Regions from separate parts of the Homo sapiens genome. Here all the other regions are linked to region 3. The links come from fine-mapping of genetic effects on gene expression. A gene starts in region 3. Each other region holds a variant in brackets. All regions are shown on one strand. Distances are between the middles of the regions.

Region 1 (8,180 bases), 200 kb before region 3:
GAACATTTAAGATCTACTCTTTTGGCTGGGCACGGTGGCTCATGCCTGTAAGCCCAGCACTTTGGGAGGCCAAGGTAGGCAGATCATCTGAGGTCTGGAGTTCGAGACCAGCTTGGCCAACATGGTGAAACCCTGTCTCTACTAAAAATACAAAAATTAGCCAGGCATGGTGGTGGGTGCTTGTAGTCCCAGCTACGCGGGGGGCTGAGGCAGGAGAATCGCTTGAACCCAGTGTCAGAATTAAAGGAGAGAAACATGAAGGGTGGGTTGACAGTCAACAGGTTTATTTCAAACCTGGGAGGGATTTCTGACCAAGTTAGGTCAGAAGCTGCACAATCTTACAGAGTTTTTAAGGATTCAGGGTGGGAGAGTTTATCAGAGGCTTCGACTGCTTCTGTGTCTCTTCGTTGTGCTTACCTGGGCGGGAGAGTTGTCTGTTCCCGTACATCTTTCTGCAGCTGCAGGCATGTCCCCTGAGTCTGCTTTTAGCTTCCCTATCTTAGTGCACCTGAGGGAAAGAAATGTGCCTATTAAGGCCCACTGTTTTACTGGGGCACATTGTATGAGGGTGAAGTTTGGCAGTTACCCAGTTACCCAAGTAGGGGGAAAGTAGACTTTCCCCCTACTTCCCTCTGTGCCCAAGCTGTCTTATCTGTGTTTTACTGTCTGCTCTTTCTGGCTGCTTGTGGTTAGAAGAGAAGTGATTTCCTTGAAATGTATGAGGCTAGAAAGGGAGCTGGAACTTAAAGTGGTGGTGTTTGTCCAAGATGACAGTGCTCCTGCTCTGTCACCCAGGAGGCAGAGGTTGCAGTGAGTCGAGATCGCACCACTGCACTCCAGCCTGGGTGACAGAGCAAGACCCCGTCTTAGAAAAAAAAAAAAAACTACACTCTTAACAATTTTCAAATATACATTATTTATTAACTATAGTCATCATGCTGTATAACAGATGTCCAGAATATATTCCTCCCAACCAAAAGGGTGACTCGTACCCTTTGACCAATATCTCCCTGTTTCATCTCAACTCCCCTGGCCCTGGCAACCACCATTGTACTGCCTGCTTTTGTGAGTTCAACGTATTTTATTGATCGATTAATTGATTGAGACGGAGTTTCGCTCTTGTTGCCCAGGCTGGAGTGCAATGGTGCGATCTCGGCTCACCACAACCTCCGCCTCCCGGGTTTAGGCGATTCTCCTGCCTCAGCCTCCAGAGTAACTGGGATTACAGGCGCCCACCACTGCGCCCGGCTAATTTTGTATTTTTAGTAGAGATGGGGTTTTGCCATGTTGGCCAGGCTGGTCTCAAATTCCTGATCTCAAGTGATCTGCCCGTCTTGGCCTCCCAATGTGCTGGGATTACAGGCATGAGCCACCGCACCCAGCGCACATTTTCTTTATCCATTCGTCTGGCAATGGACACTTGATTCCATAGTGTGGCTATTGTGAATAGTGCTGCAATGAACATGGGAGTGCAGATATCTCTTCAAAATACTGATTTTCATTTCCTATGTATATATACCCAGAAGTGAGATTGTTGGATCACATGGTAATTCCATTTTTAGTTTTTCCAGGAACCTCCAAACTGTTTGCCATAATGGCTGTACTAATATACATTCCCACCAAGAACCTGGGAGGGTTCTGTTTTCTCCACGTCCTCACCAACACTTATCTTTTGGCCATTTAATGTCTTCTGTTGAGAAATGTCTACTTAGGTCCTTTGCCCATTTTAAAATCGTTTCCTTGCTATTGAGGTCCTTATATATTTTGAATATTAACTCCTTATTGGATGTATGATTTGCAAATGTTTTCTCCCATTCTGTAAACTGCCTTTTCACTGTTTTTTTACTTCTTCTCACATCAGATGGGCAATGTGTTGACATCATAACAAGGTTTGAGGGAGGCACACCTCACACATGAACATGAAAACCCACTCATCATGCTTATGAACTATGAAAAACTCTGTTGTATTTTGTTTGCCATTCTTGTTTTTTTTTTTTTTTTTTTTTTTTTTTTTGAGACAGACTCTCACTCTGTCGCCCAGGCTGGAGAGTAGTGGCGCAACCTCCGCCTCCCAGGTTCAAGTGATTTTCCTGCCTCAGCCTCCTGAGTAGCTGGGACTATAGATGTGCACCACCACAACTGGCCTAGTTTTATATTTTTAGTAGAGACGGAGTTTAGCCATGTTGGCCAGGCTGATGTCGAACTTCTGAACTCAGGTGATCCACCCGCCTTGGCTTCCCAAAGTGCTTGGATTACAGGTGTGAGCCACCGGGCTCAGCCTGTTTTTTGTCTTCAAGGTGTCAGTTCAAATATTTCGTCCATTTATTTAGCTGTTTTCTTACTGCTGAGTTTTAATAGTTCTTTATATATTTATTCAGGCCAATTGTTAATGCTTTTCAAATGCATGTGTATGTCCATAATGTATATGTGGTGATATATTACTTTTACAATGGTAAACAAACAAAAATAACAACAGCAACAAAAACCCAAACATCATTTCCATGTACAATACAATTTTGGCCTATGGTATCTTTATCATGCAGTGAAGTTGATACCACATTGCTCCTTTGTGTATGTTGTGTTTTCCTGAGGTTTTTCTGCAAATGTCATTCTAGTGTCTTTTGCTTTGAGAACATACAGTGAATAAATGACTATACTATAAGCTCCTTAAGAGTAGAAACTGTCTGTTTCTCATTTTATCTCCAGTGCCTCACACATAATAGACATACAATGTATTTAATGCTAATAAACAACTTCTTAGGCAAAATGTTTGTGAAAGCCACACTGAAGCATTTATCATTTATTGAATTGAAACATTTCATTTCATTTATTCATTTATTGAGACAGGGTCTTGCTCTGTCACCCAGGCTGAAGTTCAGTGGTGTGATCTTGGCTCACTACAGCCATGACCTCCTGGGCCTAGGTGATCCTCCCACCTCAGCCCCATGAGTAACTGGGACTACAGGCATGCACCACCACACCCGCCTAATTGTGTTTATTTTTTGTGGTGGCGGTCTCTCTGGGTTGCCCAGTTTGTCCTCAAAACTCCTGGGCTCAAGCAATCTTCCCATCTCAGCCTCCCAGAGTAATGGGATTACACGCATAAGCCACCACACCTATCCAATAAAATTATTTTTTTAAAAACTGTTATGGTTGGAAAATGCAGCTGAGGCACAATACAAACTTCACGCTTGATAGTCGTAGCAAGCTCAAAGGAGCCAAAGATAACTTTGTCCTAAATGCAAATGTTGATGCCAATGGATACCACCACTTAGATAAATGTAACGAACAATTGCTTTTTTGCACTCTCAAGGTATCAGTGAGATCCAGGGAGAGGCTAATAGAGGGCCGGTATGGTACAGAAAACACAAAACTTATTTATGAGACTCTGAGTGGCTCTGCACTGACCTGGGAATAAGGTTTTAGTTTTGGCTTTGCCACCAGGATGGACATGTCTGTCACTCAACCTGTCTGGGTTTGCTTCTATATTCCTAGAATGGCAGGGGCAGACTAGATTATCTCTAAGATTCTTTCTCACCCTAATGTTCTGTGAGTTTTAATTCTTGCTAGTCCTAATCTTTTGCCAATTTAGTGCACAGGGTGACTTTACTTTTTTTTTTTTTTTTTTTTTTTTTTTTTTTAGCAGATACGGTGTCTCACTATGGTGCCCAGGCTGGTCTTAAACTCCTGGCCTCCAGTGATCCTCCAGGGTAACTTTTCATTAGAAAATAAACCAGCCGGGCACAGTGGCTCATGCCTGTAAGCCCAACACTTTGGGAGGCCAAGGCGGGAAGATTGCTTGAGCCCAGGAGTTTGAGACCAGCCTAAGCAGCATAGTGAGACCCTGTCTCTAAAAACAAAAAAAACAAATAAATAAAGAAAAATTAAATAAAGAAACCCCAGCCTGGCCAACCTGGTGAAACCCTGTCTCTACTAAAAATACAAAAATTAGCTGGGCCTGGTGGTGCATACCTGTAATCTCAGCTCTTCAGGAGGCTGAGGCATGAGAATCGCTTGAACCTGGGAGACAGAGGTTGCAGTGAACCAAGATTGCGCCACTGCACTCCAGCCTGGGTAACAAAGAAAGACCCTGTCTCAAAAAAAAAAA[C/AC]ACAAAAAACAAACAACAACAACAACAAAACCTGAGAACTCTAAATCAGCCTTTCTTATTGTATAATCTAGTTGACAGTCATATGGCCTTTAGATGTTAGTTGTTGTTGTTGCTGTTATTATTGTTTTGAGACAGAATCCAGCTCTCTTGCCCAGGCTGGAGTGCAGTGGCATGACCTCAACTTGCTGCAAATTCCACCTCCAAGGTTCGAGCGATTCTTATGCCTCAGCCTCCCGAGTAGCTGGGATTACAGGCACACATCATCAAGCCTGGCTAATTTTTTTTTTTTTTTCATTTTTAGTAGAGATGGGGTTTCACCATATTGACCAGGCTGGTCTCGAACTCCTGACCTCAAGCGATCTGCCCACCTTGGCCTCCCAAAATGCTGGGATTACAGGTGTGAGCCACTGCACCCAGCCATGAAGTTTTGAACAATTATTTACGGCAGCAATTGTCTGCAAACTGCCAGAGCAAATTTTCTAAATCATATTATCCAGAGGCAACTGGGGGCCAACCTTTTTTGCAGGCAACAGCATGAATCTGAGTATAAATACTGGGAAAGAGCCTAGAGATGAACAACAGGCTTCCTGTCCCCACCACCATGTTTATTTGTTTATTTTTTCTATTTTTCTTTTTATTGTAGAGACAGGGTTTTGCTGTTGGCCAGGCTGGTGTTGAACTTCTGGCCTCAAGTGATCCATCCGCCACGGCCTCCCAAAGTGCTGGGAGGCATAAGCCTCAGCACCCAGCCCCCACACCATGTTTTTGAGATGGTGTCTCACTCTGTCACCAAGGCTGGAATGCAGTGGCATGATCATAGCTCACTGCAGCCTCGACCTTCTGGGCTCAAGCGATCCTCCTACTTCAGCCTTCCCAGTAGCTGGGACTATAGGCTTGTGCCACCACACCCTCCTAATTTAAAAACTGCTTTTATAGAGGGGGGTCGCACTATGTTGCCCAGGCTGGTCTCAAATTCCTGGGCTCAAGCAATTCTCCTGCCTCAGCCTCCCAAAGTGCTAGGACTATAGGTGTGAGTCACCACGCCTGGCCTGTACTCTACTTAGTGTGGCTTATAGTACGGGCTGAGTATTATCTGAAATGCTTGGGACCAGAGGTGTTTTGGATTTGGGATTTTTTCAGCATTTGGAAATCTGAAATACTTTTGGAACAACCTTATATACGTACTCATTGAGCATCCCTAATCCGAAATACAAAATGCTCCAATGAGCATTTCCTTTGAGTGCCATGTCAGTGCTCAAAAAGTTTTAGATTTTGAAGCATTTCAGATTTTCGGAGTGGGGATCATCAACCTGTAGTATACTTCTTTAGCTTGGTGAAATAAACATGGGTAGTTAAAGGTCTGAGTAGCAAGAGTGGAATGACAGAACTGGGTACTTCTGTAACGATCAGCCAGACAATAAGCTCCCTATTTTTTCCTGCTTCTGAAATCCACTTTAACCATGTTGGCCAGGATGGTCTCGATCTCTTGACCTCGTGATCCGCCCGCCTTGGCCTCCCAAAGTGCTGGGATTACAGGCGTGAGCCACAGCGCCCGGCCCAAGCTTAATTTTTAAAGACAGACTGAAAACTGCTTTATTATCAAGGGACTTGCAATCTATGCCTAATAGCTCATGGGTTCAAACCTCTTACTTTTCAGCTTTTCAGTAAATAAGTGAATTAAACCAAATTATAGGGTAAAAAACATTTCAAAGTATACAGGCATGAAGAGGTTCCCTTGAAGGTGCCTATGAATGGCTTAGAGGAAAATTTAAAATTTAGCTCATTTTCCACTCAAGATTTTTTTTTTTTAAGACAAGGTCGCACTCTGTTGCCCGGGATGGAGTGCAGTGGTGCAATCCCAGCTCACTGCAGCTTCCACCTCCTAGGCGAATTGCTTGAGCAATCCTACTTCAGCATCCTGAGTAGCTGGGACTACAGGTGCATGCCACCATGCCCAGTTAATTTTTGTATTTTTAGTGGAGATAGGGGTCTTGCCACATTGCCCAGGTTGGTCTCGAACTCTGTCTCAAAAAAAAAGGTAGATTAAAAAAATTATAATTAAAAAAATTATGATGAGTTGGCTGGACATAAAAAGAAAAAAAGAGCTGCCGGGCGCGGTGGCTTACACCTGTAATCCCAGCACTTTGGGAGGCTGAGGCAGGCAGATCACGAGGTCAGGAGATCAAGACCATCCTGGCTAATACAGTGAAACCCCGTCTCTACTAAAAATACAAAAAATTGGCCGGGCGTGGCGGCGTGTGCCTGTAGTCCCAGCTACTTGGAAGGCTGAGGCAGGAGAATCACTTGAACCCGGGAGGCGGAGGTTGCAGTGAGCCGCAATTGTGCCACAGCACTCCAGCCTGGCAGCAGAGCAAGGCTCTGTCTCAAAAAAAAAAAAAAAAAAGCTAACTAAAAAAATAGAAAAATTAAAAAAAAAAAATAAAGACGGGTCTCATTATGTTGCTGAGGCTTGTGCTGACCTCCTAGGCTCAAGCTGTCCTCCCACCTCAGCCTCCTGAGTAACTGGGATTACAGGCGCACACCACCACACCTAGCAGTATGGTACTATTAAGGGCACTAACTCGTTTAGAGCATATTATTTTAATAACAATAAATTAAGATTTTTTTTTTTTTGAGATGGAGTTTTGCTCTTGTTGCCCAGTCTGGAGTGCAGTGGTGCGATCTTGGCTCACTGCAAACTCTGCCTCCTGTGTTCAAGTGATTCTCCTACCTCAGCCCCTTAAGCAGCTGGGATTACAGGCAGGCACCACCATGCCTGGCTAATTTTTCTTGTATTTTTAGTAGAGATGGGTTTTCACCATGTTGGTCAGGCTGGTATCAAACTCCTGACCTCAAGTGATCCACCTGCCTCAGCCTCCCAAAATGCTGGGATTACAGGCATGAGCCACTGTGCCCAGCCAATTAATATCTAGAAGCCAATAAAAAACGTACTGAGCATTTTCACATGTAATGTCATAAAAAGAAGAGCTTTTTCTGCCTAGTATACCATCACTTTTGCCACTATTACTATATCATGCTGGTCCTTGCATATAGCAGGAACTCAATGCTTTTTTTTTAAGCACCTGTCTGCTATTAAATCCATGTGTCTTTTAAACTGACGGCACCAGATAACCTAAAACTTGAACTTTAGAACTACTTCTTTTTTTTTGAGACAGTCTCGCTTTGTCGCCCAGCAGGCTGGAGTGCGGTGGCGTGATCTCGGCTCACTGCAATCTCTGCAGGTTCAAGCAATTCTCTTACCTCAGCCTCCTGAGTGGCTGGGATTACAGGTGCCTGCGACCATACCCAGCTAATTTTTGTATTTTTAGTAGAGACCGGGTTTCGCCATGTTGGCCAGGCTGGTCTTGAACTCCTGACCTCAAGTGATCCACCCAGCCAAAGTGATGGGATTACAGGCATGAGCCACTGCACCTGGCCAAAGATGTTCGTTTCTATTCTAGGATGCACATGCTAAATCAGAGATAAATCCATATCAAGATCAAATCCAGAGCTGAAGCACAGTGTCAGCATGGTAGGATTGGGAGGAACTGAGAAGAGGAAAAGGGCAATACTAAATGAAAAAGTCAAGTCCAGGAGAACTTTCAGGGGGAAATTTGGCTTGAGGTAGACTTTTTTTTTTTTTTGAGATGGAGTCTCACTCTGTCGCCCAGGCTGGAGTGCAGTGGCGCGATCTCAGCTCACTGCAAGCTCCGCCTCCCGGGTTCAGGCCATTCTCCTGCCTCAGCCTCCCGAGTAGCTGGGACTACAGGTGCCCACCACCACTCCCAGCTAATTTTTTTTGTATCTTTTTTTAGTAGAGCTGGGGTTTCACCGTGTTAGCCAGGATGGTCTCGATCTCCTGACCTTGTGATCCACCCGCCTCAGCCTCCCAAAGTGCTGGGATTACAGGCCTGAGCCACTGAACCCGGCTATCTGCTTTTCAAAGAGTAGACACTTAGCTTGTGCCTTATAAAACTAATAATCTTCCTTGGATTGTGGCTAAATTGTGTGAATGCTGGTATTTCAAAAGACTGTAAGCATCATGTCTGATTCAATGCTGTATGTTTTATTG
Region 2 (8,180 bases), 84 kb before region 3:
CACACACACACACACACACAGTTTGAGACCAGCCTGAGCAACATAGTGAGAGGCATGCACGCTGGGAGCAGTGGTAGTATGTGCCTATAATCCCAGCTAGGTGGGAGGATTGCCTGAGCCCAGGAGTTTGAGGCTGCAGTGAGATATGACCATACCATTGTGTACTCCAGCCTGGGCAACAGCATGAGGCCTTGTCTCTAAAAAGAAGAAAAAAAGAGATAAATGTATACATACAAAATTGGGTTTTTTCTCCCATGGGGATGGGAGGGATGAAATAATCTTCCCTCCATAGGACAGAATTAGTTTGCAAGTCTTATGGACCAGAGTCATTTGTACTATATAATGAACTTTTCTTAAAACTTATTTTGAAAGCCTAACCAAGTGTCTCAGGAAGCATGAGAATATGTGAGGTTAGAAGCTGCATGCCGTTATGGTGATGTTTCCCAAATTCTGCCGCTCCAGTGGCGCCCTGGGGCATCCTTCCCCATTGGGTGGATGTAGCCACTGAGGCTGAAGTGATTGAATCAGTCCAAAGCCGCAAAACTTGCAAGCAGCAGAGCATGGCTGCTAGTCCATCTTTCCGATAGTCTATTCTTCTCCAGTTCCTTCATTCAGTGTTTCCTGAGTGCCCACTGTGTGCCTGGCCCTATGCTGTAACTACAGATTCAGAGATGAACAAAATACCAGATAGAACAAGTTCCCTGAGGGCAGGAATTTTTGTGGCCTTCAGCACCTTGGTGAATGCTGACACATAGTAGTTATTTAAATGATTGTAGAATAAATGAAGACACAGGCGATCTCTATTCACATGGGGCTTCTGAGAAATCCTGCTCAGGATCCCAAGAGTTCTACCAGATCACATGTAGCTAGAACATATCAGACCTTCTTGCTTTCTTAGTTGATCTCCTGCAGACCCAATCTGCAGTTGAGGAAACTGAGGCTGTGTGGGTCTGCTTGCCAGAGACAACAGTGGGTGGCAGGCTTGAGCCTGGTTCTGTGGCTGAGAGTTCCATTTTCCTCCTCGGCTACTTCTTCCAGGATACTACCATCTCATGCCACCTCTTGACCTCAGACTACCTACCACCAGTAGTCTGCATTATTTCAAAATTATGAACAAGAAGTTTCAGACCAGCTGGGGGCAGTGGCTCACACCTGTAATCCTAGCACTTTGGGAGGCCGAGGGAGGTGAATCACCTGAGGTCAGGAGTTCGAGACCAGCCTGGGCAACAAGGTGAAACCCCCGTCTTTACTAAAAATACAAAAATTAGCCGGGCGTGGTGACACACTGCTGTAATCCCAGCTACTCAGGAGGCTGAGGCAGGAGAATCACTGGAAACTGGAATGTGAAGGTTGCAGTGAGCCGAGATCACACCATTGTACTCCAGCCTGGGCGACAGAATAAGACTCTGTCTCAGAAAAAGAAAAGGTCTCAGACCTTAAACTCAGTCCAGTTAGGGGAGGTGGGACACTTCGACCTAAACACAGTCTGGTGACTGGAATCAGTTTAGTGACTTAGTGGTATCACTAGGTTTTTTTTAATTATAGTAAATATGTATAGCATAAAATCTATTGTTTGGACCATTTTAAGTGTACAATTCAGTGCCATTAAGTACGTTCACAATGTTGCCCAGCCATCACCACCATCCATTTCTAGACCTCTTGCATCATCTTAACCAGAAACTCTGTCCCCCTGAAGCACTAAGTCTCCATTCCTCCTCCAGACACTGGTAGCCTCCACTCCACTTTCTATGTTTGCCAATTCTAGTACCATATGGAACTGGAGTCAGTCAATACTCGTTCTTCATTTCTAGCTTCCTTGACTTCGGATTTTCAAGGGTCGTTCATATTGCAGTATGGATCAGAATTTCATTCCTTTTTTTTTTTTGAGATGGAGTCTCACTCTGTCACCCAGGCTGGAGTGCAGTGGCGCGATCTCAGCTCACTACAACCTCTGCCTTCCAGGTTCAAGCAGCCTCAGCCTCCCGAGCAGCCCGCCACCATGCCCGGCTAATTTTTTTGTATTTTTTGAGTAGAGACACGGTTTCACCATCCTGGCCAGGTTGGTCTTGAACTCCTGACCTTGTGATCTGCCCACCTCAGCCTCCCAAAGTGCTGGTATTACAGGCGTGAGCCACCGTGCCCGGCCTCAGAATTTCTTTCTTTTTTTCTTTTTTTTTTTTTTTTTTGAGACAGAGTCTCATTCTGTCGCCAGGCTGGAGTGCAATGGCACGATCTCAGCTCACTGCAACCTCTGACTCCCGGGTTCAAGCGATTCTCCTGCCTCAGCCTCCCGAGTAGCTGGGATTACAGGCACGTGCCACCACGCCCGGCTAATTTTTGTATTTTTAGTAGAGACAGGGTTTCACCGTTTTGGCCAGGATGGTCTCGATCTCCTGACCTCGTGATCCGCCCGCCTCGGCCTCCCAAAGTGCTGGGATTACAGGCCTGAGCCACCACGCCTGGCCGACCTCAGAATTTCATTCCTTTTTAAGGCTGGTCAGCTAGGTTGTCAGCCTCAGTTCCTTAATTTGAGAAGTGGGTATACTTCTAAGTTATAACCTTGAAAATATAAAGTATTCTCTTGTGTAGATGTGAATAGTTCTAAGTCTTTCTGCCACCCACACCCCAGTCAGACCATAAATTCACTTATTGAATGAATGTTAATAAAAGACTAAAGTTTGAACAACAGCCAGGTAACATTTCTTTGCCTTTTATTTTCCACTCCCCTATCTCACTTAGGACTAGACACCTCGAGTGACCCTCACATTCCCCTTTCAAACAGATTTGGTAAGAATTTGATTAAAATTATCTAGCATTCTTTATATTTTTTTAGAGACAGCGTCTCACTCTGTCATCTAGGCTACAGTGCAGTGGTGCAATCATGGCTCACTGCAGCCTTAACCTCGTAGGCTCAAGTGATCCTCCTGAGTAGCACAAGTGTGTGCTACCATGCTTGGCTAGTTCTTTAATACTTTTGTAGAGACAAGGTCTCACTAGACCAGGCTGGTCTCAAACTCCTGGCCTCAAGCCATCCTCCTCGGCCTCCCAAAATGCTGGAATTATAGGCCTGAGCCAGTGCACCTAGCCAAAGTTGTCTAGCATTCAACCAGCTGCTCTTGAACCTGCCCCCGCTTCCCCATTTCCCCTACTTTTCAAATATCCAACCCCACGTTAATTGCTTTATGCTATTTCAGCCTTATGACCCTGGGTGGCAGGTGCAATCCCATTTTACCCATGAGGGAGCTGAAGCTCAAAACTAGAGCAGTTTGCTGAAGTTCACCCAGCTAATAAGACTGGATTAGGACTTAGGCCTGCCTGATTCAGGTTCAGTTCTCAGTACATGCTCATGCCAGGCATGGATGTCTTCATGTCCAGCACTCTGAACATGAGCTAGACTGCAGGTGACTTAGAAAGGCCTCAGAGTCTAGAACAGAGTGTCTCAAGGGCAGAGCCACATTATGGAGATTAATCTGGCTGGACCAAAGTAGTAGTAGAAAAATAGAAAGCCATATGAAATGAGCTGGGGTTTTGCATGAGAAAGTAGGGAGGTTCCGGGCATCTCAGTTAAGGTGGAATTGCAGGTCCTCGCCCTAATCCTGATCCCATCTGCAGCATCTGTTCCTATTTGCACATTGCTCTAGAATTGATGAAATGCTTTTAGTGCTACCACCTCAGTGGTATTCAAATGTTATTAATGAAGAAAACAAACATAATGAAACCAATCCCTTCCAGGCCAACATGGGAATAATGGGTTGTAGGGAGGTGTACACTTATGTTTTATTCTTACTTGTTTTTGAGACGCTCTGTTGCCCAGGCTGGAGCGCAGTGGTGCAATCTCAGCTCACTTCAACCTCTGTCTCCCGGGTTCAAGCGATTCTCATGCCTCAGCTTCCCAAGTAGCTGAGATTACAGCTGTGTGCCACCTCACCTGGCTAATTTATTTGTATTTTTTAGTAGAGACGGGGTTTCACCATGTTGGCCAGGCTGGTCTCAAACTCCTGACCTCAAGTGATCTGCCCGCCTCAGCCTCCTAAAGTGCTAGGATTACAGGCGTGAGCCACTGAGCCCAGCTTTGTTTTGTTGTTGTTGGTGATGGTGGTGGTTTTTTTGTTTGTTTGTTTTGTTTTGTTTTTTTGAGACAGAGTCTTGCTCTGTCACCCAGGCTGGAGTGCAGTGGCATCATCTCAGCTCACTGCAACCTCCGCCTCCTGGGTTCAAGCGATTCTCCTGCCTCAGGCTCTCAAGTAGCTGGAATTATAGGCGCCCACCAGCAGGCCTGACTAATTTTTGTGTTTTTAGTAGGGACAGGGTTTTACCATGTTGGCCACACTGGTCTCAAACTCCTGACCTCAGGTGACTCACCCACCACGGCCTCCCAAAGTGTTAGGATTACAGGCATGAGCCACTACGCCCAACCTACTTCGTGGTTTTGACTTGCGTGCCCTCTCATTCCACCCAGGGAAGCTCTCCACTGGGCCCTTTTCAGCATGCAAGCCACGGGCCACGTGCTGCTTCACCTCCTGTTACCTGCAGCAGCTCCTCGATGCCACAGAGGACGGGCATCCCCCCAAGGGCAAGGCCTCATCCCTCATCCCGACCTGTCTGAAGATACTGCAGTGAAAGCCCAAGCCCTAGCTTTCCCCAGTGAAGGACTAGACTAGGGGCCCCACGCTCAACTGGTAGTGGCCACAAGCCTGGCAGCTGTAGAGCCGCTAACCTCCCGACACCTCCCTCACCACACAGGACCCTGAGTGAGGAGGAGGGGCTGGAAACCTGGG[A/G]TGGGTTGGCCAAAGGAGAACCTCAGGCTCCTGGCCTGGCCCAGCTCCTTCCTGCCCAAGGTAGCTTAGCCCATCCAGACTGGTCCTGAAGTCTGTCCCTCCATTGGCATGAAGTCTGCCCCTCAGCAGTCCGGCCTCACAGGCTGTACTTTCATGGTGCTCTCTACCTTCTGGCCCCCATCCCAGAACATTCGTGAGTGAATTCGCAAGCATACTAGCATGTGATATTAGGGAGTTTGCAATAAATTATTGATGCTGATGTATCTTTGCCTGTGTTCTTTGGGGTGGGGTTCTAGCTGGAAGGTTGGAGAGGGCTAAAGGAAGAGATGAATCTGTTGTCAAACTATTCTCCATAACATAAGATTACAAATAATAGTTTTTCTACCAAAGGGGGGAAAAAAAAAAAAAGCTGAGCACAGTGACACGTGCCTGCAGTCCCAGCTACTCAGCAGGCTGTGGTGGGAGCATCCCTTGAGACCAGGAGTTCAAGGCCAGCCCGGGGCACAATAGCAAGAGCCCAGGCTCTTTAAAAAACAAAATTGCAGGGGTGGGGGGAGGGGGGAGGGATAGCATTGGGAGATATACCTAGTGCTAGATGACGAGTTAGTGGGTGCAGCGCACCAGCATGTCACATGTATACATAGGTAACTAACCTGCACATTGTGCACATGTACCCTAAAACTTAAAGTATAAAAAAAAAAAAAAAAAAAAAATTTGCAGGCCGGGTGCAGTGGCTCACGCCTGTAATCCCAGCACTTTGGGAGGCCCAGGCGGGCGGATCACGAGGTTGGGAGATCGAGACCACAGTGAAACCCTGTCTCTACTAAAAATACAAAAAAAAAATTAGCCAGGCGTGGTGGCGGGTGCCTGTAGTCCCAGCTACTCGGAGAGGCTGAGGCAGGAGAATGGCGTGAACCCAGGAGGCGGAGCTTACAGTGAGGCGAGATCGCACTACTGCACTCCAGCCTGGGCGACAGAGCGAGACTCTGTCTCAAAAAAAAAAAAAAAATTGCATTTGATTTTGAAACTAAAGTCGGCTAAATTTGAGGCTTGAGCTGACCATGTAATTGATACCATAAGTAACAATTTCCTAATTAAATTCACCTATCAGAGGAGCTTCAATTGAGCAGGTGGGATTAAGTCACTCTTCTAATTTCTCAGTGTCCCGTTTTATAATAACCATTTAAGTGGTTAGGTGAAAAAGTACTACTCAAGCTGTAAGGCATTTCCCCGTCAATGCCCATCCTAACTTGCCAGACAGCTTATCTTTCATGTTCAGGACTTTCAACCTCGGGATTTCAAAGTGGGCTCATAGGTAGCCCCAAAGAGTAGGAGCTTCTCATCAGTGTGAGCTGGCATTTTCCAATATTGGACAACTCAAGACAAGCATGAAAGGCTGAATTTAGGCTGGGCGTGCTGGCTCATGCCTGTAATCCCAGCACTTTGGGAGGCCAAGGCAGGTGGATTACCTGAGGTCAGCAGCTGGAGACCAGCCTGGCCAACATGGCCAAACCCTCTCTCTACTAAAATACAAAAAATTAACCAGGCATGCTTGTAGGCATCTGTAATCCCAGCTATTTGGGAGGCTGAGGCAGGAGAATTGCTTAAACCTGGGAGGCATAGGTTGCAGTGAGCCAAGATCGTGCCATTGCACTCTAGCCTGGACGACAGAGTGAGACTCCGTCTCAAAAAAAAAACACAAACAAACAAAAAAAAAACGAAAAATAAAACAAAACCAATCGTTTTACAACTCTTACTATAAAGCCTATTTGGATGTAGTAAATACTAAGGCAAAGGTCTGTATTACCAAAGATGGTCTGGGAGCTATTTCTGGCAGCGGACCCAAACCCTGCAACCTGTGGGTGAAGCTGCTGAAGCTCACTGAAGAGGGCCTGCTATTCTGGGCTCTCCTTCTCTTGCAGTTGTGGCTGGAGGCTGGCCTGGTGTCAGGCTGGCTCCATGGGGTGGGCCGTCTGGCAGGGAGGCCTGATGTTTGTATTAGCACAGAATCTATCCCAGTCCACCCTTGCCGAAGCTGTGGCGGGGCCTACGTGCTCCTTCCGTAAAGTGCTCAGTAACAGAGTTGGAGTGGGGGTGGGAGGCTCGGTATTTGTCCCAAGCTTCCCTCCTCCTGGGATCCGGAGTTTCACAAGTGAATCTTGAGCAACTGCCCACGGTCTCTTGGCATTGAGCCCAGGGAAAACAACGTTCTTCCTTTTCTTCCAGGAGCTCGAGGCTAATGGAGTCAAAGCAGCTGTGGTCAGTGAACAGGAAAAGGCAGCCTTTGATGAGGCTGGGGGGCTGGGGAGGGAAGATTCCAAACAGCAAAGGAGCTTGAGCCTCAGTAGGGCCTGGCGATCCTAGTGGGAGAATGGCCTTTCCTGGAGACCCCCCCGCACAGCCAGGAGCAGCTGTCGTCAAGGTGGGCTGTGTCCCAGCCCCTCCAGCTCAGCCTTTTCATCTGTTCAGGCTGGTGCTCACGAGTGCACAGGACGCCTTTCAGAAGGAGGATTCTAAATCCCGGGGGTCTGTAATGGCACAGCCACATGTCTGAGCCCAAAACAAGAGAACCACATGTGTTTTTGCCACACTTCTTGCCAGTGCTGTCCATATTTGTGTACATAATTTTTTGTTTCTTTTCTTTGAGACAGAGTCTCACTCTTGTCACCCAGGCTGGAGTGCAGTGGCACGATCTCAGCTCACTGCAACCTCTGCCTGCTGGGTTCAAGCAATTCTTCTGCCTCAGCCTCCCAAGTAGCTGGGATTACAGGCACCCACCACCACGCCCAGGTAATTTTTATATTTTTCATAGAGATGGGGTTTCGCCATATTGGCCAGGCTGGTCTCAAACTCCTGACCTCAGGTGATCCACCTGCCTCAGCCTCCGAAAGTGCTGGGATTACAGGCGTGAGACACCACACCCGGCTCTTGTGCACGTAATTCTATTTTATTTGAGATGGAGTCTTGCTCTGTTGCCCAGGCTGGAGTGCAGTGGCATGATCTCGGCTCACTGCAACCTCCGCCTCTCAGGCTCAAGAGATTCTTGTGCCTCAGCCTTCCAGGTAGCTGGGACTGTGCACCACCATGCTGGGCTAATGTTTGTATTTTTAGTAGAGTTGGGGTTTCACTTAGCCAGGCTGGTCTCGAACTTCTGGCCTCAAAAGATCTGCCCGCCTCGGCTTCTCAAAGTGCCTTGGATTCCCAAAGTGCTGGGATTACAGGTGTGAACCATCATGCCTGGCCTGTGCACATCATTTCAATAACTGATATTTTGAAAACATTGTTTATTGACATAATTTATGTACAATAAAATGTATTATTTACAAGTATGTCTTTCAATAAGTTTTGGCAAATTTATACAGTTATGTAACCACCATTTCTGGCAAACCAGAAAGCTGCCAT
Region 3 (8,166 bases):
CATGATAGCCACGATGGTCTCGATCTCCTGACCTCATGATCCACCCACCGCAGCCTCCCAAAGTGTTGGGATTACAGGTGTGAGCCACCGCGCCCAGCCAATATTTTCTTTTACAAAGACTGAATTTGCCATCTTTGTAGCTAGCTCTTTATCTGTAGCTTCAGGAAAGACTGCTCTAAAAGAGGCTGGTAGTAAGTTCAGCTCTTGTGCCAGGACTGTGTGTGAGGATGGATGGCGATCATGGAGGCTCCAGGTCAGCACCCGCCCCTCCCCAGGAAGGTACCATAGTCCGATCTGGCATGGGAAATGAAGGGGCTGGGAAGTCTATCATTTCTTTAGTACATGATGATAACTATACTGCATATGACTCAGTCTAGCCCCTGTGCTTTCTCCAAGCCTTTCCCCACTGATTTGCCCATCTCCCCAGCCCTGTCAGGCAGGCAAGAACTGAGGTCCAGAGAAGTTTATCTGAGTAGCCTGAGTTCACACAGCGAACTAGGGACAGAGCCAGGACTGGATCCCTGGACTCGGTGGTCCCCTCCCATCCCCAAGAGCAACTTAAAAACTCACGAAGGCAGGAGGGCCCGAAGGTGCCTGCGGGGCAGCAGAGCTTCAGGGAATCTGAGCACAGCCACTGGAAGAGGTCCGGGGCCTCCTGCTGCCTGAGGCAGGGGCAGGGTGGAGGGAGGTGGGGAGGAGGTGCTGAGATAGTGTCATAAGTGCTGTTCCCATTCCCCCATGCCTGAATCTGTGATTCAACCCAGCTTGGACATAAGACCCAAAAGGCCATCTGACCAATGCCCTTTCCCCATTTGGCAGAAGGGTAAACTGAGGCTCAAAGTGGAGCGCAAGTCCCCCGGCAAGTTCTTAGCAGACCTGGGTTTGGAAGGAGCACAACCAGGACATGGGCCCCAGCATGCACCCCCCTGCTTCTCGGCCAAATCAGGCCTTATCACCAGGCCTCACCTGTGACCCACTTCCAGGGAAGGCCCTTTGCCACTCACTTGTGAAACCACCAGCTCTCCACCAGCTCCTCACTCAGCTCCAGCAGGCGGTGGCACTCGAAGTCTGACTTGCTGCACACACCCTCCAGCACCTCTACCAGGCGGGTCTCACTGATCGGACAGGGCAGGGCTGGTGGGAAACATGCCCCACCCCACCCACCACCCTCCTCAAGTCTCTCTCCACCCTTCCTCGTGCGGTGAAAATATCAAAGGAGAGGCCATGAGGTATAATGGAAGGGGTCATGGTTCTGGGAAGCAGAGAGACCTGGGTTCAAATCTAGTGGTAGATCTAGTGGGCAAGTCACTTAACCTCTCTGAACCTCTTTGTTTTGTCATCTGTAAAATGGGGATGACAATACCTTCCCTGCAGGTTTGTTGTAACATACATCAGTTCCTGCATCTGAGCAATGGAATATAATACCCTTGCTGGGTAGATATGGCTAAAAATACATCCTATAACAAGTGTTGGCAGGGATGTGGAGAAATTAGAATCCTCCCACACTGCAGGTGGGAATACAAAATGGCATCACCACTGTGGAAAAGCAGTTCCTCAATAAGTAAAACATGGAATTGCCATAGGACCTGCCAATTCCACTACTGGATATAGACCCAAAAGAATGGAAAACAGGTGTTCAAACGAAAACTTGTAGACAATGTTCATAGCAGCACTATTCACAACAGCCAAAAGGTAGAAACAATGCAGATGTCCATCAACTGATGCATGGTTAAACAAAATGTGGTACAGCCAAATGAGAATATTATTCAGCCATAAAAAGGAATAAGTATTGATATATGCTACGGTATGGGTGAACCTTGAAAACATTATGCTAAGTGAAACTAGCCAGACACAAAAGGCCACATATTTTATGATTCCAATGAAATCAGCAAATCCATAATTTCTGCTTGACTAACACAAATTAGTGATTGCCAAGAGCCGAGGGAAGGGGAGAATAGGGAGTGGCTGTGTAATAGGTATAGGATTTTTTGGGGGGGTAATGAAAATGTTCTGGAACTACATAGTGGTGATGGTTACACAACATTGTAAATATTATTAAATGTCTTTAATGGGAAATTTTTTATGTGTATTTTACCACAAATATATACATATATATATATATATACGCATATATATACGCACATATATATACGCAGACATATATGCACATATATATACACACACATATATATATACACACACACATATATATACACACATATATAAATATTTGATGTCTTATATCCTGTATTTAAAGGGTCTGGCACAGTGCCTGGCATATAGGAGGTGATTTAAAAAAGCAAGCAACGCAGGAGCCATTACAAAGCTGGAAGTGCCTCTGGGGTTGTCTTAGCCAATCCCCTCATTCCTGAATGAGGAAACTCAGGCCCGGCGAAGGAAAAGAGAAAATGACCAATGTTACATAATAACAAAACCTTTATTTCTAGTGGGCATCCCAGTTAAGCCTTTTCCACACTTCTATGAAATAGGCAAACCAGGTATTAATATCCCCATTTTACAGGTGAAGAAACTGTGGCTCTGAGAGGTTAAGAACCGACAACCAGGTCTAACTCTGAGCCTTTGCTGACTCCTCTTCCATCTGACTTTGAAAAGCTGGAGGGCTCAGGGCTCGCCTTTCTGTATCCTTCCCATGCCTTTCTTTACATACTGACTATATAAATGGCTTTCTGTATTACATATATTGACTATATAATGGCTTTCTGTATCCTTCCCATGGCTTTCTTTACATACTGACTATATAATGACAACTCTCAAATTCCTGTTTCCAATTCCTACTCTTTTCTGAATTCCAGATTTGTATGGAGTCTACCTGGATGTCTAATGGACATTTCAGCCCAATACGTTCAAAGAACACCACATCCCACCCCTCCCCTAAACCTTCTCGGTTTCGCATCTCACCATCTTAGAAAACAGCTGCACTACTCACCCAGTTGCTCAGGCCCAAAATCTAGTAAGCATCTTTTATTCTACTGTTTCTCTATACCCATAATGAATCTATCACCAGGTCCTATTGTTCTCTCTGCAAAATATACCCAGACTGTGACCTCTTCATCATGTCCTCCACTAGATACCACACTAGCTTGTGTTGCCTTTGTACCTAGATGATGCACTTGCCTCCCAAACTGGTCTCCCTGCTTCCTCCGCCCTTGCCCCTTACAATCCGTTTGCTACATAGCAGTGTGAGTAATCTTTAAAGGTGTAGAGAAGACAGTATCACTTTTTCTGCTCATAGCCTTCCAAGAGCTTCCCATTACACTCCAAAAAAAATCTAAACTCTTTTCTGTAGCCCTCGAGGCTTAAGCCTTTGCCTTCACCTTCTAGCACTCTCCCCTTGGCTCACTCCACTCCAGCCACTTCTCAAATACACCAAGCTCAGTCCCATCCTCTGCCCAATTCCCTCCCTGTCACATAGCTCGCTTCTTCACTTCCTGTCTCTCTGTTCAAATGCCAAACCTTGAACACCTTGCCTCCCACCGTCCTGCAGTCTACCGTGCTTCACTGTTTGTTCTTCATCTGACATAATATTATTCACTTACTCATTCACTGCTTGTCTTCTCTACTAGAATGTGAGCTCCAGGAAGGGGGCATTTTGCTTGCCTTGTTTACTGCTATACTATAGATGTTCAGTGCTATTTGTTGAATGAATAAGTGCTCCCCAAGAGTTCCTAGCCCTACACCAGCAGAGCAGAGATTTGGCGGGGAGGGGAATATACACCCCTTCCCCCAGCAGCCCCTTACCTGTCTTTGTATTTGGACAAATTCTCTTCCTCCCAGGCAGTGTTTCCACCTCCAAAGTTGTCCCGGATGGTTCTCTCCAGGCCCTGGAAACAGAAAATTAGTAATAGCTAAGTACAGTGCCTGGCACATGCTAGCACTTCACTGTTCTACTGACTAGGAAACTGAGGCACAGAAAGGCAACCTGCCTAGGGCCATACAACTAGTAAGAGACCAAGATGAAACTTAAATCCACGCAGATTTGCATCCCAGAGTTCCCCACTCTAAATCGCTGTGTTCCCCTCTAACGAGGCTGCCGGTGCACCCACCTTGTTAAAGCTGTCAACCAGTCCCCGGCAGGTATGACACGGATGGGGCTGAGGCGGGGGAGAAGACTGGGGAGGTGGAGAGGGCTGGAGCCAGATAGGTCCTGGGAGGTTGAGGAAGAGGCTGAGGCCCCAGAGCATAGCTGGGACTAGGCCCTTCGGGGGCCATGGGGCCATCTTTACCCAGGCTGGGGACCTGCAGATAGAGGGCGTGGAGAGGCTTCACTGAAGGAGTCAGGCCCCACGCGAGAAAGAAAAAGGTCTGTTCTAAGGTGCCGTGGCGCTGGGATCTGCGTTATTACAAGCAAAAGAGGCCAAACTGGGTATTGCAGGGGCTGTGGGGATGGGTGGGGAAAGGCGCATAAGATGCAATTCCAGAAGAGAAATAAGTTATCCTCGCTAGCATGGGGTGGAGAGGAAAGTGGCCTCGCTCCTTGACAAGGGGGCAGAAGTCAGCCTCTTGTCTGAGGGTCTGATAAAGAATATTAGGGGCCGGATCCGCAGAATTAGGGAGAAGAGATCAGATTCCAAGTACTGAAGGAGAGGAGGCCAGAGGGGTTGTCTTGGGGGAGGTGTCCGGAACCCCGGGCTTGGAGGGAGGAGCCCGGATCCGGATATGAAGGGAAGGGATCAGATTCAGGGCCTCGCAGAAGGGCAAAGGCACGGCCCACGAGCCGGCAGAGAAGGATCCAGACCCTCGTAGGCCACGGAGAAGGAAGAAGCGACCGCCCCAGCCCGCGGGCGCCGTGGGCCGTCTCCTCACCGCGTCGCTGCCACAGCCTGCGTAAAACGCACAACCCCCACCCGCGCCGCAGTCCAGGGGGCGGAGCTTGCCGCCCAGCCAATGGCGACGGGCCATGTGCCATTACGTCACCCCACGCCAGCCAACCAGAGGCGGCACCGAGCTGCACCTGTCCGGGCTTTAAAGGGCCGCGGGGCTAGGGAATGACGTTTGCCAGCCCCGCCACTGAAACGGAGACGCGTGTGGGCCACATGGGTAGAAAAACAGCGTCTGCCTTTATTTAAGTCCCGTCCCCCGCCCCAGGTCCCGCGCCTGGTCCCACCCCGCGTCCCGGCGCGGGAGTCCCCGGGGGATGGAAGTAGCTATCCAGGGCTGGCTGAAGGGCCCGGGACACTTGCTCCGCTCTCTCTTGGAGCCGCCCGGAACGCGGGGCGCGAGGCTGCTGCAGGGCCCCCAGGAAGTCTGGCAGTTGGGAGGGCAGTGTGAAGACGGGCACGGTGCGGAAAAGGGCGGGTACGGCGTCCGGGTGGAGCAGCCTGTCGAAGCAGGCCCCCACGTAGCTGCCGGGCGCCCGGCCCTGCAAGAAGTCGGGCAGCACGCAGCTGAGCGAGGCGCGGAAGGCGTCGTGCGGGCCGTGCGCCCCGGGCCCGGACACCCCATCCTGTAGCCACTCGCTGCACAGCGCCACCGCACCGGGAGAGAAGAGCAAGACCACCACGCCGCCCTCCTGCAGGGTCTGGCGCCGCTGCGCGTGAAACCAAGCCACGGGCCCCTGCGCGCTCAGTTCACGACGGCTCCACAGGTCTACGGCCACGCGCAGCGGCAGCTGGCACAGGGCCGACGCCAGGGCGCCCACCAGGCGCTCGAAACCCGAGTCATCGGCTGAGTAGAGGAGCAGAGCCGCGCGGCCCCTGGCGGCCGCTGCCGGAGAAAACAGATGGGGAGGGAAGAGGTGAGCTGGCACAGGCCTGGCTCCCCGGGGGCGGCCCTCCGCCCAGCGCTTGCTCCCACTCACCCCCCGAGCGGACGTCCTGTTTCAAGAGCCTCAGCCACCCTGTTAGGGGAGAGGGGCGGAGGCAGCCAGTGAGCTCGGCCGCCGCTTTCCCTCGGAGAACTCCCACAGCCACTCTGGTCCTCCCCCAGGGGAATGGGGAGCCGGGAAGCGCTCACCTTTCGCGTGATCCTTTTTGAGAAGGAGGATGAGGGAAAGCGCAGCGGCAAAGAGTAGGCAGGCCAGCCACACGAGGGCCCAGCGCTTGTGGATGTCTGGGAGACCCAGAGAAGAAGAGTTAGAAACTTACCCTCCACAGAGAAGAAAAACTGAGACTTAACAGAAATGAATTGGGCCGGGTGCGGTGGCTCATGCCTTTATATAATCCCAGCACTTCGGGAGGCCGAGGCGGGCAGATCACGAGGTCAGGACATCAAGACCATCCTGGCTAACACGGTGAAACCCCGTCTCTACTAAAAATACAAAAAATTAGCCGGGCGTGGTGGCACACGCCTGTAATCCCAGCTACTCGGGAGGCTGAGGCAAGAGAATCGCTTGAACTCGGGAGGCAGAGGTTGCAGTGAGCCGAGATCGCGCCATTGCACTCCAGCCTGGGCGACAGGGTGAGACTCCTCTCAAAACAAAACAAAACAAAACAAAAAACGAAGAAATGATTTGCCCAGAGTCCACAGCACAGTGTCAGAGCCAGTGGATGAATATAGCTCCATCTGTTTAGGGGTCTTTGAATAAGTAATGTCACCCTCTGCCTCAGTTTTCTCCTCTGTAAAGTTGTACCTGTGTCATAGGGTTGGTGTGAGGACTAAATATATTAATACATATAAAGCTTAACACAATGTGTTAATACATACTTAACACAATGCCGAGCATCTTAAGTGCTAAAATGTCAGCTGTTTTTCTCCCCTAAGCTAGGGTTGCTGGGCCCTTGATCTTGCTGTCCTGGGTGTCTGCAACTACCTGGTGTCCCTGCCCTGTCTTTTTTTTTTTTTTTTTACCTCCAATTGATTTGCCTTGAATTGATTCATGACAGCCTCAGAGATCTTTTAAAAATATAAATTTGGGCCAGGTGCGGTGACTCACGACTATAATCCCAGCACTTTGGGAGGCCGACGCGGGCGGATCACGAGGTCAGGAGTTCAAGACCAGCCTGGCCAAGATGGTGAAACCCCATCTCTACTAAAAATACAAAAATTAGCAGGGCATGGTGGCAGGCGCCTATTAATCCCAGCTACCCGGGAGGCTGAGGTAGAGAATTGCTTGAACCCGGGAGGCAGAGGTTGCAGTTAGCCGAGATCGCGCCATTGCACTCCAGCCTGGGCAACAGAGTGAGACTCTGCCTCAAAAATAAATAAAAAAATAAGTATATATATATATATATATATATATATATATATGTGTGTGTGTGTGTGTGAAATATATAAAAATTTGATCGTAGCTCCTGCTGCTCTCAACATAAGATCCAAATCCCCTACATGTCTCCTGCATCTTTATCTCATGACAGAAACCTGCCTGTCCAAGACCCTGTATCTCTACCCCCTTCCCCTAGCTCAGTCTTCAGAGTTTTGCTGGAACCTTCCCCCTGAGCCCCTCACCCCTCACCCCACCCAGGTCAGGTCCACATTGTATGCATTTACAGCACTGAACACTTGGTGGTGCTTCAGTAGCTCCCACTTTAAATGTAAGTGACTGGCTCATGTCTTGCTAGTCTTCTAGGGGTGGGGCGGGGGCAAGGATTTATATTTTTGGTGTTCCTGCGATCCCTGCAAGCTCTCATCATTTTTTGAGTGAATGAAGGAATGACCCTCTGTTTATCTGATCTCAGGGAAGGACAAGGCCATTGCATGTGCTGTGCCCAAGAGTGGTCCCTGTCAAGATCCCCACTCCTGGTACAGAAAGGAAAGGCAGTTCTTACAATACTCACATTTGTCCATGGGGCAGGCCCATAGCGCTCCCAAGTCATCGTCCCATAGCTGTAAGATACAAACAGAACCAAATCCAGGGCACCAGCCAGGTGTTCCAATATTCACCAAGCTCTGGTGGCCTGATCTCCAAATTCCCAGCATCAACTATGCATATCTCCCGGCTAAGGTTCCTGCAGCTGCTCTGCCTTTGTGCTGTGCCCACTGACTAGGGTATGACTTCTTCCATACCAAATCTGGCTTATAGGAAGAAATTCTTCCCGGAAGCTCTCCCTGGAACCCAAAACTTAGCACCTGTAGGTGTGGTTATCTGTTTATGGGTGTCTAGCCAACAGTGTGCTCCTTGGGGATAGGAACTGTGCTTCTTCTACTCTTAACTTTCCCAGGGCTGAACATAAAATAAGCCTAAATAGACAGTAGGTGAGTGCTAGTTTT

What was found. PIP is the estimated chance that this variant, and not a neighbour inherited with it, causes the effect. A credible set is the group of variants that fine-mapping cannot tell apart.
Region 1: its variant is the best candidate, but not a certain one, in a credible set for the expression of CRELD1 in whole blood (INTERVAL, PIP 0.66).
Region 2: its variant is the best candidate, but not a certain one, in a credible set for the expression of CRELD1 in adrenal gland (GTEx, PIP 0.53).

The regions. Positions count from the first base shown.
Region 1 is chr3:10,127,164-10,135,343 of GRCh38, reverse strand. LOC124906357 (small nucleolar RNA U13) reads right to left here and starts at 1,959; the gene lies at 1,856-1,959. It overlaps BRK1 (BRICK1 subunit of SCAR/WAVE actin nucleating complex), which reads right to left. Exons shown (of 3, transcript NM_018462.5): 3 at 8,154-8,180. The variant C/AC (reference allele first, on the strand shown) is at 4,109.
Region 2 is chr3:10,014,351-10,022,530 of GRCh38, reverse strand. It overlaps the pseudogene CIDECP1. Among named protein-coding and RNA genes, the nearest start is that of FANCD2, 8.0 kb to the left of the region's middle. The variant A/G (reference allele first, on the strand shown) is at 4,779.
Region 3 is chr3:9,930,511-9,938,676 of GRCh38, reverse strand. It overlaps CRELD1 (CRELD disulfide isomerase 1), which reads right to left and starts at 4,843. Exons shown (of 11, transcript NM_001077415.3): 1 at 4,757-4,843; 2 at 4,065-4,257; 3 at 3,760-3,842; 4 at 1,005-1,115; 5 at 571-662. The coding sequence starts at 4,238. It overlaps IL17RC (interleukin 17 receptor C), which reads right to left. Exons shown (of 19, transcript NM_153460.4): 16 at 7,734-7,782; 17 at 5,974-6,069; 18 at 5,819-5,857; 19 at 5,056-5,724. The coding sequence ends at 5,084. RefSeq lists an enhancer at 4,432-4,801 and silencers at 4,902-5,231, 5,812-5,871.